Linked DNA regions of Homo sapiens. The protein of the gene in region 2 purifies or fractionates together with the protein of the main gene of each other region. This does not show direct contact. Each region holds a gene or a part of one and is shown on either strand. Other genes may lie near its edges.

Region 1 (8,376 bases), on a different chromosome or scaffold from region 2:
GCAAGCATTCCACTACCTATGGAGGACAAACACTGCCCTCTACTGGCAGACTGTAACTGCTATACAGTCAACATGACGAACATTTTCCTCAACAGTCACTATCATGAGACATAATCAGAAAATAAAAGCTTTTAAATAATTTGAGGCTTTGTGTCTAGGGGTCACCAGGATTTTCAAGCAAACCGAAGTATTCAATGAGAAATCTCCTTACTCATTGAAGTTTCCGACTTTCCCCATTAAATCTTTGATGTAACTCATTGGACTGGTTCAAGTATCACTGTTACTGGGAGATGTGAGAGAACAGCAAAATGCTCAAAAGCTCAATACCAGGAAGAAGGCTTAAGGGACCCATGTATACCAAAGGGAGCTGGCTTTAGAACGAACAACTGTGATAACTTAAAGCACACAGCACTGATTCAAACCCTTGTTGTACTACATACTAGCTACATCAGGTACCACATAAAACCTCATCTTACCTGAACCAGGTTATTCTTTACAATATTGGAAGAACAAACACTTGCCGATCTCACAGTTGTTGGAAAAATTAAATGAGGTAATATGTGTTGCACAACTACAGTGTAGTACTGTATACCGATGTTCATGGATAGGAGTCTAGGTAGCTCCAAGTGTGTTTTAACCTCTCTTCATCTGTTTATCCACTTGTTGGTTTTTGAAATCCTTTAAATCAGACTGCATTTCTTCAGCACTGTCCTGAAACATAAAATTGTCTATGTTATCCATAAAATACTTAAGGATTATGAGGAAAAGTAGATGGTTAATGCTCATCCAAATTCAACTTTAACCTGAGACAACTCATTATATTAAGAAATAAATGTATGTGGGCAGTGTGCCTGCACCTGTAATCTGAGCTACTGGGGGAGCTGAAGCAGGAGGATCCCTTGAGTCCAGGAATTTGAGACCAGCCCAGGCAACATAGCAAGACTCTCATATCTCCGAAAAAGAATAAAATGGCCGGGAGGGGTGGCTCACGCCTATAATCCTAGAACTTTGGGAGGCCGAGGTGGGCAGATCACTTGAGATCAGGAGTTCAAGACCAGCCTGGCCAACATAGTGAAACCCCGTCTGTACTAAAAATACAAAAATTAGCCAGGTGTGGTGGTGTATGCCTGTAATCCCAGCTACTTGGGAGGCTGAGGCAGGAGAATCACTTGAACCCGGGAGGTGGAGTTTGCAGTGAGCTGAGATCATGTCATTGCACTCCAGCCTGGGCGACAAGAGCAAGACTCCATCTCAAAAAAAAAAAAAAAAAAAAGAAAGAAAGAAATTTAAAAAGTTAGCTAGTCACTGACGGATAACAGGATGCACAAAGCATTTAATTTCAAAGCCAAATTTGCATTTCAATTATAGTATTTGGCTGACAAGGCAAGTATGTAAACAAGAGGAAAAGTTAAAAAGAAAAAAGCCCTAATAGCTACAATATCAGCCCAGTTCTAAAGAGGGATCTTGTACCACATTGTCCACCTAACAAGTAATCTTTAATTCAAAATTCAGCGTAGTTCTTATGGGTATTTGGAATTGAATGCAAGTGTGTTCTGTGAGTATAAACATTATCTTTTATTATATATGATTGTTAAACTTTGCTTTCCACAACACTTCATAACCTTGGATGTAAACATGAGAAAAAATGCTAATTAAGAATCCTTACGCACCCAGTCCAGTGCTCCCTTAATTAATCAAACTGGTAAGTCTACTGCTTCTTGATTCCATCCTGAGGTATTAACTTTTGAACCAAGACATGTTTATCTTTTACCAACAACAGGGATGGTCACTGTTAAAGTTTCTAAATAATTTATTAGGGAAATAAGTTCCCACAAAGTCAGGCTGAACTGGGAGCTGATTAACAAAGCTGTGTAAGTTAGTGTGTTTGCTTTAAGGTATTACAAGAAGTACACAGAGCACACATCTGGGTTATAAAAGCCCTTTTATAAAGCCATTTTTAAACAAAACAAAAAAAAAGTTTACAAAAGAAAAAAAGATACAGAAAAAGAATAACTTGCTTCATATGTCCCAAAAAGAGAAAAAAATAAAGGGGACAATGCCAACATGCTCAACAATAAAGGCTTCTTTTTCTTATTTTTTTAATACAAAATACAAGCAAAGGATACACATACTTAAAACAGAGCTCAGGAGCAGACACGCAGTCCTGGAAACCCTTCAATAAAAGCAAAGCAGGAGTTTGTTTTTTCTTTGTCTATGCAGATACATACAGAGACTGGGATATGTAAAAATTAAGTATCACAAAAGACCATCACACGATTCTACCAATGCATGTTGCATCTGTAATTCACGAACATGGTCAACAAAATCATGTTCACTTCAACCCCATTTCATTTAAATTAAAGAAAAAAACCTTTTAAATAAAGTGGTTACATTCAAACTTTAACTTCCTTAGTACCATGCTGCAGATTTCAGCACTGTTAAGGTATTGCAAGAATGCCCAACCCTCTGGTGTCTGATCATGTATCTAGCAACATTGCAGTATGAAGAAAAGAGATGCCCCGGTCTCAGCCCATGGACTAGTTAATACAGTGAAGCAGGTTCCTGTCTTTTACCCTTCCTGCTCAGAACATAAAAGATTAAGGACTAAAATCAAGGAAGACTGGGAGTTTTAGAGCTGGCAAAATGAAGTCTAAAAGATAAATCAAGGCAAACAATTACTGAGAACTTGGCTGTTGCTTAACCTGGCAAGTCTAAAAGCCTTTCTTTAACCTTGTAGGAATTAGATGCATAAGGTTTGCTGCAACATGTTCATGGTAAACAAACTAAGTAGAGCTCTTATTTACAAATCTTGTAACAAATACTTCTGGAGGAAAAAGAGAAAAGAATTCACTAAGTTCCAGAAGACAAAGCTTTAATTGCCAGATGTATACAAACACACACTCACACGTACACACCCACACAATACTTCAGGGGTTTTTATACATGTTATTTTAGGGCATAAGCTGAGTACTATACCCCCACACCCCATCAAAAAAGGAACAACAAAAAAATCCCAATTTTACCCTCCCCCAATAATCTAGAAAACCCTCCCTTCACCCCTGATGTACAAAGTGTATGCACAACGGTGGCATTCTACCAGCCACACAAAGCATGCTCAAACAGATGTCACCAGTTCAGTCACTCCATTGGCATGGCAACAGGCAGGTTTACGGGATGTTTCCCAATAGTGGTTATTACACAGTCAGCACCACTGTGAATTTTGTGAATTTGAAAAAAAAAAGTGTAATTTATGGATTCAGGATTCAAAAAGAATCATTTTGTATCGAATTTACCCCAGACAAAGGGAAAACTGGTTGCGACTGAAACTTGGCTATAGATAGCTTGATGTCCCAATATTCAAACAATAAGCCAACTCTCCATTTTCAAGTAAATCCAGCTTCATCCACAGAGAAACAGACAATTTTCTAACCTCAAGAGCAACCAGCTTGTTACATTTTCCCTATCCTATGGCAGGAAATGCGTATTACTTCTGTTCTGTTTAAGCATCTCAGTCTAAATGCCATGAAGACCAGAGCCCAGGTTTCTTCCTTTTCAAATTCTTAAGGTGAAAGTTTTTTCCTTTCAGTGCAGCTACCAATGATGCAGGCAAAGAACTGTTCAAGCCAGCACTCATTCTTCAAAGCTGCAACAGTGGCCACCATGATCTTTTATAAAGCTTTCCCCGTTGCTCCTGATATTTATTTCTGCTTTTGCCTAACGCTCTCAAAGCATCTCGTAAACTGAAGTTTAAAGAAAAGCACGATTCCCATCCCCAACCAGTACTTGAAAATCCACTTATCTGAATGTTCACAGATAAAAAAGCCATTAAAAAAAAGAGTCAAGTTTAGTCTAGCTGACCATATTCACAAGTGTTAAAAACTTTACTGGAGTATAACCTCAAATTTCACTCTTGATTTGTTATCTGTAAGAAAATGCTATTTGAGCCAGTACCAAATTAAGTATTAAAATGAGGATTGAACTGGGGCAAACAGGTTATTGTGAAAACAGTCAATATGTAAGCTCCTTCAAGGGAAATCAACTACTGTTCCTCAAGATTAGAAGATGTCCACACTCTTTGCATTACCTCCCTAAAGGAGGAAACACCCATTAATTTTCCCTTATGGAATCAATATGGAGTGGAAATATGAAATGAGGAGATGTTTTAGAAAGCAGGACAAATCTACCTACCATTACTGGAATTAAAATGTATCCTCTGGGCCCACTCCATTGATTCCGATCTGAGGTGAGGAGGACTAAAAGCAGCAGCAGGTTACAGAAAGACTGAATAAGATGAAAGTATGCTACGTATGTCTAGCTGGGGAAGGGGGGATCTGGAAAAAAAATCTTAAGAACTAGAATGTAGTGTCAGTCAGCATAGCTGCTGAAATCTACGTTGTAGAGGTAAACCTAGCAGAGCTAATACAAACAAGCACCTTCAAAGTTAACGTCCCACTTCCTGAGCACTGCAAAATACGACAGTGAATGCTATTGCCATTTCACCATAGGCACACTAGAGAAAAAGAGGAAGGTTAGTCAAGGATGGTGCCAATGGCCAGTCAGTATCGGCTTACAGCTTGTAATGCGTCCTGACATCACTATCAAGCCTGACTATTGAGCACCTGTATCCAGTTGAGTCACCACCACTGTCCTCCTATTTGCATGCATGATTTGAGGGGAAGACTAGAGTGTTTTAAATCATCAATAAAAAGTGGAGAAAACAAAGGTTATTCAGAGCCTGTCTCACTTGGGGACACAGATCCTTCTGTCCAGTCTATCAGAAATATAGAATACATTTTTCAATCTAATGAATTAATTTTAAAAGGGACCCTAAACAAGAAGCCCAATCAAATGCACACAAGTAATCTAGAAGACATGATTACCTCTAAAATATGTGCATATATCACAGAGATGTTAGTGCAGATTAATATATTAAAGAGACTGTTAAACAACTGAGGCTGAAGTTTTAAAAGAGCCCTCCCCCCAAATCTTCACGAAACATAACCTAAGAAAAGCCCAAATGTTACTAGGAATGTAAGACTTAAAATTATAAACTCCTAAAAAATAGAAGTGCATGGTGGAAACACTGATAGGTCTTTTACTATATGAACACAAACTTCTTTGTTAAAAATGGATACCTGAACAAACCCATTTAGGCAAATAGATTAATCTTTAACACCCTCATTACAAAGTTCACACCTCTGAATTTAACCGTCATGAAAGAGAATGATCCAACTGCTATTTATGTTCAAGTCCTGTATTTTTGGCCATGTAACTGAAAACTCCTTATTCATTCTTTAACACACAGTGCAATAGTGAAATGACTCTGCCACTGTGTGTTTTTTAAAAAAAGATCAGAGTAAGCATGTTCCTAGTAAACCACAAAGTAGGATATTGAGGAAGCAAATCTAGATTAAAAGGCAGGAAAAAAAGGCAGAAGTTTAAATTTCACTAATTTTTCAATTTATTAGCATACCAGGACCCTTTAAACCTTGTTCCCATTAGCGCCTGGTATTAGATGTGAAGGATCAAACCTACGGATCTATCTCCTGACTGCTTTTATAAGGCGTGTAAAAGTCGGTTTTCAACTGCACACAGGCCTCCTAAAATGCCTTGTTTCTCTAGTCCCTCCTGCTTTAAGCAGCATGAGCAGTAAAGCAGGGGTTGGACCAAATAAAAAGACAAGAGCTAACTGAATTGTATGGGAGCAGCATTTAACATATTCCTAGTCAAGGACAGGATGGGAAGTAAGTGAAGAATAGGGCCAGGAAAATAGTGTCCTATAGCAGAGGTGGTTGGCACTCGGGGTAGGGTGTGCAGTGGTGCTCTACGAAGCAGCAGGATCACAGGGATGTACTTCTTATCACATTTCTATGAAGAAATGGGAAGATCGGGATATGAAAAAGAAAATGTTCTATCCCCAAATAAAAGCAGAGCATGGTTAATGGGACCTGAATGCACATTTATAGCATAAAAGAATGTCAATTCTATTTCATAAAGGAAAAATCTCAACTCTTTGTGACTGAGTTTCACATTAACTGGAACTTTATTTGCTTAAAACCTAAACATTGTCAGTTTGAAAAGAAATCCACTGTGACCTGTAGACTGATCTTGTTGATTAAATTCTAGGGTTTTTTTTTTTTTGGATTCTTGGTAAAATTTTATCCAAAAAACAGGATACATATATATTTAGAGAAGGAAATATGAAATCAAGAGTTTTGGCAGCCCCTGCTTTTTTTTTTTTTTTAGCTCCCTAAAGACTGTAGCAGGATAAAAGGATCACTGGCTCCGAGTCTCTTTGAGATAACAAGTGATGAAATAAAAAAGAAAGCCCATACCCTCAAATAAGGTCAGGTAACCCCATTGCCCACCCTCCCTACAAGGTAAAAAATGAGTACTTTTAGTAACAGTTCAGAATTCATCTTTATCTCCTACCTGCCTCATCGGTGGAAGTTTAAAGTCATGATTTTTTTTAGACATTGATACTTGTGTCTATAGACAAATAAACTCATATTAGATGACAATTGATTTTTTAAAAGTCCAGGTAGAGAAAGGAGCAATCATTTTGAACTAAAATCTTTCTATGTTTTTTGATTACTATTCAACTTGCTATTTTTTAGCAAAAAGCGAAGTTTCAATAGTGTTCATCTCAAATCTTATTGCTTTACAACCGTGGTACACCTTTCATTAAAAATAAAAAGATGAAGCAGTCAATCCAGTGATTAATTTGACATGGCTTTCATTGGGAAAGGGGAGGGCTGGCAAAGAGACCAATAGACAAAAAGGTAACTTAAACACTTACACATACAATGGTTTGCTTTAAAAAAAAAAAAAAAAAAAGAGAGAGAGAGAGAAATGTTACTTTCAACAAATGGAAAAAAGCACTGAAAGCCCATGAGTCAAGCCATAGCCAAAACCATGTTCTATCTTAAGTAGGTTCTTTTTTTTCCTCCCTCTTTTTTCTTTTTTTTTCTTTTTTTTTTTAATAAAATCTCTCCCCAGACCATCATCACTTTTAATCCTCCCCAGAAGGGGCTTCATCTTCAGACCCTTCATCCCCAGATTTCTCGGGTGGGGGGCTTGTAGATGTTTTCTTTTCTGGCGGGCTTTCCGGTTCCTCATCTTCTTCTTTGGGAGAAGGAGTCTTTTCCTTTGATGCCTTTGAAGCTGTGGGGCGACCCACTTTCCCTTTGCCTTTCACTGGACTTGGCGTCACTGAAAATAGAAAAATAATTTGGGGAAGGGAAGAGAAAAAAATGTCTTTAATAAAAGTCAGCTACAAAATACAACAATCTGTAAGAATAAAATCTATAAAGACAATATGCAACTTACTAAAAACCAAGGTGGGCACAAGGGAGCACATATATCCCTAGGTAAATCTATCTCAGTTTCTAAACTGGTCATAAGTTACTACACTATGCTACAGTATTTCCCATCAGTTTTTACCAACACTCTATGATGTTAGCAGTAATACCTGTAAAGAAGAAGCACCATGCTATAGAATATGCACAACATCCTTAATTGCTTGGTAAACTAACAGTTGTTTATGATAAAAGTTGTTTATAAAAAGCAGGTCAAAAAGACGGAAGGAAAAGAATTAATCTGATCAGAAACTAAAGCCATCAAATAACATTTGATAGTTCCATCATTCCTAACAGTAGGAAGTGATAAACAGAAGTTTAACAATGACTAGTTCTACCTAACAGAATAAAACCACCTACACAAAAAGCAAATTGATTTCTGATTTAGTTAACAAACTAGCTCCAACGAGGAGAAACCATTAGGGCTCAGAAAAAAATCAACTCATGTCATCAAGTGTGGTTTTATTCTGATAGCACAGAGGATGGGGTAGAGTTCAGAACGTGGAACTTAAACGTATTACTCTAGGTTTGTGCATTTTCACAATTAAGTCTTTGCTGGCTGCTGAGACTGTGATACCAGTGAGGAAAAAAGAGCAGTAACAACTATGATGACACAGTGTTTCTACCACTGTGTCTGAAACAAATAGATCATTCTGAAATCTTGCTCAAGTACTGGCAGTAGTTGAAGAACATGGCTAAGCCCACTAGACTCTTAAACAGGCTAGTGTCTTTATTAATAAGAGATACTTCCAGTTGCAGAATACAAGACCCTTTTAGATTTCTTGTATTCCTGCTAAACATCAGGCCAATGCCAAATCCTAATGAGGAATTTCTGTATTGAAAATAATGATTCTCAAAATTTTTAAAGCAGTAAATTTAATTTCACTTCTGCAGAAATTACCTGTAGCCTTTAGTCTGGGTTTGGGCATTTTCTTTTCTTTTCTTTCAGGTTTGGACTTCTTAACCATCTTTTTGTTTTTCTTTTTCGAACTGCCATAGTCACTATCGTCATCATCTT
Region 2 (8,515 bases):
TGAACAAAGGTAAAATAAGAGGTACATAATAATTGGTATAGAAGTTTAGGTATCTAAGACCAATTTAGAGTAGAATTGCTAGGAAGGCTTCATAGAAGAAAGGCGATTTGTGGCTAGAACTTGAGGGATAGGTAGAAACATCTGCTATTACCAGAAAAGCCAAGCAATACAAAGATCAACAAACTTCATAAAGGTTATGAGAAAAAAAAAAGTTCTAGATAGAAGATCAAAATCTGCTTCAACTAACGAGAAATAGTTTCTAAATTTTTTTCAAATTAGAAATAGTTCCTAAATTTTTTTCAAGTTAAGTTAAAGCATTAGGCTTTGGGTAATACAGAATAAAAGCTTTTTAAAATTTAATCTCTGATAAATATTTTAGAAATTATCAAAGTTCCATTTTACTTTTTTAGAAAATCTGCAGACAACTTGGGCAAAAGCTTTAAGACTTTTAAAGTTAATTTTCCTGAAAAACTCGGAAAAGGTTTAAAAGTTTCAAATTAAGGAATATTAAAGATTTCAGCACTATGAAAACATAAAACAAAAGCAAAATCAAAAAGGCCTTAAATTCCTCTGAATAAGCTCTTCATATACAAGATTTAAAGTAAGAATTTTAATATGTATCATAAGGATGGCTTAAAGTACATGAAATTAAACTATAGTAAATAACATTAAAAAATGAGGTTTTTAAATATTACTCACCATCAACAAGAGATGGTATAGATCTTTCATTGTCTGAGTTTGAGAAGAGAATCAATTCCTTGTTGATGAAATCATTATAAGTCAAATGCTTTGTTGCAGTACCATATAAAAATTGCTAAGAGAAAAGTTATATAGCAATATTATCATTATTACTGCATGAATTCTAGTCTCTCTCTCCTTCTTTCCCCAGGTCACCACTCTTTAAGACTAACCTCTGGTAAGCCATGTAGCCTACGCTGTCTCCGGTCTTCCATAAAATTTGTTAACCATTCTTTTCTGTCATCAATCTTCTTCTTACTAAATGCCTGAAAGATTCCAGGTAACGATTTTGCACATTAAAAATAAAATAAATTTTATTACAAAATTAAAATGTATAAGTGGCCAATAACTAATTCTTAATTTCTGGAAAATTAGGTTATTTTACAATATTTTAATCAAAAACACATTTAAACTAAGGTCTTTCAATTAAAGAAGTTTATACAAGCACAGCATCATCTGGGGGAAAAATTAAAATTAACTAGCTTGAGCATTCAAAAGAGACTTATCATAGGGAACCAGGACTGGGAGGAAAGGAATAGAAGGTAGGGGGATGGCTAACAAAAGCTTTTAAAAAATTAACTTAATTACCAAGGTAATGGCAGCATCATCTTCAGGACCAGCATATCTAAACAAGATGCGATGCCTTTCCATATCAGCAAAATATTCCTTTGCTTCTTTAGCTGTACTAGTACCCAATCCTGCACAATTTTAAAAATAAAAGTGAGTCATGAATATCAATGTCTGTTTAAAACCATCAAGTAAAAAGCTGGTGGAAAAGTTGTAATAGATGGATCAAGCTGGCAACACCTATACTAAGTGATCAATCTTAATAAGCAACTAAAGACAAAGTAGACATTAGATGCTTCCTGATGAAAGCACACAACGCTACCTATGAAATGTTTTTGCCAAACAAATGTAACCCAAATCTGATCACGCCTCTGATTTAACCATCAGTTAACAGAAAATAAGGGCAAAGGAAAATACTATATATTAAATGTAACTAGAGGAATATAATTAACAAAATCCAGAATGTGGAATATTACACAGAACAAACAACCCAACTTCTTTAACAAATAAATTACAAGGAAAAAATATAAAAAGAGAAATGCTATATTAATAAACTTATCAACCAAATGCAATGTGTGGACCTTACTTGGATCCTGACTTTGGAAAAAAACAAACAAACTCAGGCCAAGCATGGTGGCTCATGCCTGTAATCCCAGCACTTTGGGAGGCTGAGGTGGGCGGATCACTTAAGGCCGGGACTTCTAGACCACCCTGGCCAACACAGCAAAACCCCACCCATACTACAAATAGCCAGGCATAGTGGCACATGCCTGTAATCTCAGCTACTTGGGTGGCTGAAGCATGAGAATCACTTGAACACATGAGGAAGAGAGCCGAGATCCCACCACTGCACTCCAGCCTGGGCAACAGAGCAAGACTCTATCTCAAAAAAATAAAAACAATTAAAAAAAAACGAAATAAAAATAAAAATAAAAAACTCTAAAAATAAACAATTTTAATACAGTCCAGGGGAATTTTAACACTGGCTGGGTATTTAACATTATTTAAAAAAAAAAAAAAAAAAAGGGAGCCAGGCATGGTGGCTCACACCTGTAATCCCAATACTTTGGGAGGCCAAGGTGGGTGGATGGCTTGAACTCAGGAGTCCAAGACCAGCCTGGGCAACAAACCAAAACCCCATCTCTACAAAAATACAAAAATTAGCTGGGTGTGGTGGCACACACCTGTAGTCCCAGCTACTTGCGGGGGCTGAGGCAAGAGGATCATTTGAGCCCGGAAAGTCAAGGCGGCAGTGAGCTGTGTTCATGCTACTGCACTCCAGCCTGGGTGACAAAGCAAGACCCTGTCTCAACAATAGGATATTAAAGAAGGTTATGATAATGGTATTATGGGTTACTTAAAAAAATTCTTTCAGAAATACATACTGAAGTAGTTATAGGTGAAATACTAGACTATAATGTCTGGAAGTTTTTTCAAACTAATGGAGTGGCAATAAAGGAGGTTTACAGGAAACAAGACTAGCCATTGAAATGGTGATCCCATTCAATGAAATCTATTACACTATTCTACTTGCATACATTTTTCTATAACAATACTTTAAAATCAGTGATAGCTATTTTCGAAGTCTAAAATAGTCAAACTTTCAAGTCATCTTTTAGATTGCTTTCATAAGAATACATTTATATCAGTATTTAAAATCTAAGTATTTTAAAATACAAACCTTTATAGTACTTTATTTTCCAGGCTTTCTGGTTTTCTATATGTTTTTTCCATTCGTCAAATTCAGGAATACTGTAGAAGGAAAGTTCCTGCTTATTTTTGCTTGCCTTAAATTAATTAAAAAACAAAATTAGTTTTTCTGCTACCCTTTAAGACAACAATATAAAAATATATTAATGCAAAGAGTACCTTTACAATAGGAGTAATGAACTCTTCAAGAAAACCATGCTTCAAAAGTGATGGCCAATTGTGATGGATGAAATTAATAAGCAGGCCTTTTATGTGAGAACCATCTTGATCCTAAATAAATGTTAGTAAAGTAAAAAATGTTGTAATACTTTTATAAAATGATTACTTATATAAACAAATTTTAAAACGTGAATGCAAAAAACCAAAATTCTGAATTTTAGAAATGCATTTTACAAAAGCTATTAAGATGATCATACTAAATTTTTTAATACACAAATAAAGAATATAGTAGTAATAGACTGAATCTGTCATTATAAAAATATATTATCATTTTATCTGTTTTATAGTTTCCCCAGATTTCACTAAAAGAATGATTTAAGGATAGAAAATACATAAAATAAAACATGGTTATAATGCCACCTTAATGGGCAATGGTAGGGAAACCCAGGTAATACAGATATTCACAAGTCTTCCCTAGATAAAAAATTGGAAAATTTCTGCTTAAAACTATATATTAATAGCAGTTTTTTCAGTTGCAGATTTTCTCTACAAATACTTTAGAGTGCATAAGAGAAAACAGTTGAATGCATCTGAAATTCTTCCTTTTCAATTTTCTAGTTCTTTCTCGATTACCATCATTTTACTATTTAAGTCCTGGTATTTGTGCATTCCAAATCATGCCATCATGTATAAATATTAACCCTTATCATTAATCTTTCTTACTTGTTAATTCCATAATTTTGTTCCTACTTGTAGGTAGGCTGCTATAGTACCACACTGTATTATATTCTCCTTAGTTACCCCAAAAATCAGACAATGTAAAATGTGCTTCATAAAAATGTTTCCACTAAATGACGTGGTTTTTTCATTTTTTCCTCCTGATGTATAATCACTTTCAGTTATACCATCTTCGGGCAAGTCTCATAAAACAAATATTAAAGGGAGAATCTGAAGAAGACATGAATTTGAAATATGTGGTAACTTTAAAACCAACCTGATCGGTCATAATCATAATCTTTCCATAGCGTAAGGTTTTCAGAGATTCTGCATCATCGTAACTTTTCTTATATTGTAGACCAACTATTTTAATAATATTATTTATTTCAGCATTTTCCATGATCTGTTCAAAAAGGAAAAGCACTGAGAGTAGTTTGAAGTGTTGAAATATACGAGTCAGAAATTACATTTAAAAATTCGAGAAGTTTAGTAAAGTATTAGAAATGTCATATGTATGTGTGCATGTGTGTATACACATATATATACACACACATACATACCTGTTTATGAGAAGCTTCCCGTACATTAAGAATTTTGCCCCTGAGTGGAAAAACTCCGTATCTGTCTCGTCCAATCACACCTAATCCAGACACAGCCAGTGATTTGGCAGAGTCTCCCTCTGTTAATATCAGTGTACACTCCAGGGAATGTTTACCACCTGAGAGAAATTTAAAATTATACATAGTAAAAATTTCTCATACTTTCACTGATGAGAAAAATGAAGTCAGAAAATTAACATTAGAATGCTGACAGTGAAAGACTATAAAAGTTATTTTACATTATTGCTCAGTATAAATATTAAGTATATTTTATTAAATTCCTATCCCCTGAAAATTAGTAATATGTTGTGTATGTGATAATTTCAATGAAGTAAAATCATACTCTGAATGGAAAATCATAGTCTAACTATATGTAGAAAATAAAAAAATTCTGTAACTAAATAAAAGTGAAACTTAAATCAAAATCTTATTTAAAAATATCAATCTTACCAGCATCATTAGCATCATCCAGTTTGGGAATACCTTTGATTTTACTGTATTTTACTGATGAACACTTCTTATTCAGCTGAGTCTGAGCCTTAAATTTCACCCAGTTCAGGATACTTTCTACAATGCCACAATTAGAGGCCTAAAAATAAAAGAATAATGGTATACAAACAAGCTGAAAATTCATACATTTAGCTAAAATGTATAGGGCCTAATGCAAGACCTGGAATCTGTGCAATTTTAAGGTATTTTAGGGCAAAACAATAATGGTGATAAGCATCATGATACATGCTAATCAGCTTTTACTCAACTACTGTAAAATTAAAGCTAAAATATAAATACATGAAAAAGGATAACTTTTACATATGAGAAACATTCTATTATAATAAACTCCATGAGGAATATGCATTGCTCTTGTTACAAATTAATTTTATTAAAATTAACACAGTGAAAACAGATCCACACATGAACCTACTAGCCGGCAAATTCCAGACGTTGACATTTCTGATATCCTTCAATACAAAACGTGAGTCTTTAATTCACTATGACAAAAAGTATTAACCTAAAAGGAACATTAGGATAACCTTGGTAACTTATGAATAGACTTTTATTCTTTAAATAGCTTGGTAATAAAGATTTCAACATTACATATTGTTTGTACTCTGCAGTGAATCAATCTGTGGCAAGATGTTAACCCAGACAGAAAAAGGAAAAGAAAGTTAAGCATCTCCAACTCTAAGTCCTAAAAGTTTTTTTATCATCCTCGGTGATTTGATGTTAGGTGTATAAAACAGTTTTCTGGAATGTTTAAGACATAAACAAAAGAGGTGAACTGTGTTGTCAAATTTAAACTTAGTGCACCTAAAATGAAAAAGTATAAAATTTAAAATCAAATCACTTCATCAAGGAAACAATTGTTATGAGGACAGAAATTTGGGAAAGCATTAATATAGCATAATTTGTACTCAGAATTCATTAAGATTAGATCCAAAAGTACTATTTCTACAGGCCTTAAGTTAGAACCTAAAAAACAACTTTTGTTTTTGTTTCTGATAATCTACTTTTTGGAATTTGAGAAATACATTAGTTCTAGGGCAGTTATAGAGCATTTCCCCACCAAAATTCCAAAGAGGAGAGGCTGTGATTGATTCATCTCCATTATTTATTTGTGCTCTCACCTTATTTTAGAGAAGTTAAGGTAGCCTAAAAAAATTATGTGCAAAGCAAAGCAATTTAAGAACATGTAGAAAATAGTACATTTTGTTATACATGTTACCACAATTTTTAAACATGTATAAAGATAAGAATCAGTAGATCAAGTTGAAATGAGAGTAGAAAAGATGAAAGAGTTGCATAAGGATCTGGACATCTGTTAGGGGAAATCTGACCTTTACAATGGTCAATACAAAGCTAAAAATGCAATTAGTTACATAATTCCCTACTTTAGTTCTTGGCAAAACAATTGTTTTAGGAAACATTAAAGTCTACCCTTTAAAGTTATCAAATTAAGCATATTAGTTTGTAGTGCAAGCATGCTTATACCCACAGTTAATACGATGAAAGAAACTAATCACAAATAAAGTAAATCAAGAAAACTACCTAATCAACTCTTAATAACAACAATAAAAAAAATACAAGTTTTACTCACTGCTTTAAAAAATTTTTCTGACAGCTGGCATTTAGACCCAAAACTTTTGGGCTGCAGAGTCATGTTTTCCTTAGTCTGAGAATCAAAAGTTGGATTTTCAATAAGGCAATTAATAAAAACCCATATATGGTTTTTTACCTGTTGAAAACATACCCAAAAAAGTCAATATCAGAGCTGATATTTAGTAATTCAGTATATATATAATGCATATGTATGCATCATGTACAATATATAACACATCCCTTACTTGAAATGGTTTCACTGATACACCAGCTTTGTTCTTTTTCTTAACTACTTCAATCAGTTTACCAACAACTTGATCTACCACATAATCCACGTGCCGTCCACCCTAAAGAAAAAAAAATATATGAAATCTGAAATCCTGTATTGTTAAAGTAGCAAAATACTTTATCTGTATTATAAACCCTATTTTCTAAAAGAGTAATAGAGTCTCAGAACGAGAGTTGAGATTTTAAAAAAATAAGACATTTTGGCTACAGAGCCAATAAACCAACCGCTGTGTTTTTTTTGTTTGTTTGTTTGTTTGCTTTCCTCACTTCAATTCTAACACCAATTCTCAGGTGCTTTCAACACCAGCAACCAATTCTCTGATTCTCCAGACACCAAATGGATGTTCAACAATGTAATTCAATTTTGATACTAACTACCTGGAGTTAGCACAAGTATTTAGGGTTGGTTAAGGGCTCAATCCCACAGGACTCCCCACACTTCAGATGCCAGTTACAAGTCCTAGGCCTCCTGTACTTCTAACGAACCTATGACCCACTCCTCAGGAATGATAATTTGCTGGAACAGGTCACAGAACTCAAGAACACACTTTACTTCATTTACAAGTTTTTTATATAGGATCCAGCAATAATAGCCAAATGGAAGAGATGCATAGGGCATAGTACAGGGGAAAGGGTACACAAAGCTCCATGCCTTACCCAGACATGCCACCCTCTTGGCACCTCAAATGTATTCACCAACCTAGGAGTTCTGTGAACTCCATTGTTCAGGAGTTTTTACAGAGCTTTATCACATAGCCATAATTGATTTTTAACTCAGTCACCAGCCCCCTCTCCTCTCCCCAGAGGTTGGGGAAGGTGGGGCTAAAAGTTACAGAAAAAGGAATTTGTTATTCTAAATTTCATAAAATATAAATATGTTCAACTACAAACACTAGTCATATAAATTTATTTCTCAATAATTGTTTAAATAAATTTTAATACAGCAATTTCATAGAAAATAGGTTTTTGTTTTCATAAGTCAATTCTTATTTAACAAAAACAGATTTGGGTTTTTTGGGGGTTGTGGATATTGTTATTTGTTTTGTAGTTTTTATTGAAGTACTGTTCTACCACTGACTTGGAAACAAATAATTTGCTTACTTACTTTTGTAGTTGCAATACTATTTACAAAGCTGATTTGCTGGAATCCTTTTTCACTCAATGTGAGACAAACATCCCATCTTTCATTTGCAAGCTCATGAATAACTTTCAGGGCCACCCCAGTTTCATCCAATTTGTCTTTCACATAAAGATCTACATAACTGCGAAATCCATTTACCTATTAATTTAAAAAACAAAAACAATTAAAAATCTTACACTGGCAGCTCAAATAGGTGAATCACCTTCAGTACGTATACTTTCATTTCCTCTCACTTACAACAGTTCTAAGTGCACCGATCCAAACCTTAGTGGCATTTCCCAGATCTATTCCTTAACCCTTGACCTTTAAAAAAGAAATTCATTTCTATGTGTACTTGACAAAAAGAGGATGTGAAGGGACAGGTAAATTGTTATAAAATATTTCAGAAATTTCTATTTTTAAAATGATAAGGTAGACTTCCAGTTTCAGTTCAGACAGATAATGAACTAGCAGGAAAAAAAGCTTCCATCCTTGTAAGAAAACGGGTGATCAGACAACA

The links.
Region 1: the proteins of TOP2B (region 2) and NUCKS1 purify together in Homo sapiens (affinity purification with mass spectrometry; 2 studies listed by BioGRID and IntAct, with this or other methods). This does not show direct contact.

The regions. Positions count from the first base shown.
Region 1 is NC_000001.11:205,711,268-205,719,643, forward strand, and holds the end of NUCKS1 (nuclear ubiquitous casein and cyclin-dependent kinase substrate 1), read right to left. Parts: coding exon 8,260-8,376; intron 7,213-8,259; coding exon 7,013-7,212; 3' UTR 1,555-7,012; downstream 1-1,554.
Region 2 is NC_000003.12:25,625,861-25,634,375, forward strand, and holds part of TOP2B (DNA topoisomerase 2-beta), read right to left. Parts: intron 8,155-8,515; coding exon 7,981-8,154; intron 6,935-7,980; coding exon 6,833-6,934; intron 6,724-6,832; coding exon 6,586-6,723; intron 5,080-6,585; coding exon 4,941-5,079; intron 4,610-4,940; coding exon 4,452-4,609; intron 4,295-4,451; coding exon 4,169-4,294; intron 3,286-4,168; coding exon 3,175-3,285; intron 3,093-3,174; coding exon 2,987-3,092; intron 1,437-2,986; coding exon 1,327-1,436; intron 1,005-1,326; coding exon 912-1,004; intron 815-911; coding exon 700-814; intron 1-699. UniProt on the Homo sapiens protein: Key decatenating enzyme that alters DNA topology by binding to two double-stranded DNA molecules, generating a double-stranded break in one of the strands, passing the intact strand through the broken strand, and religating the broken strand.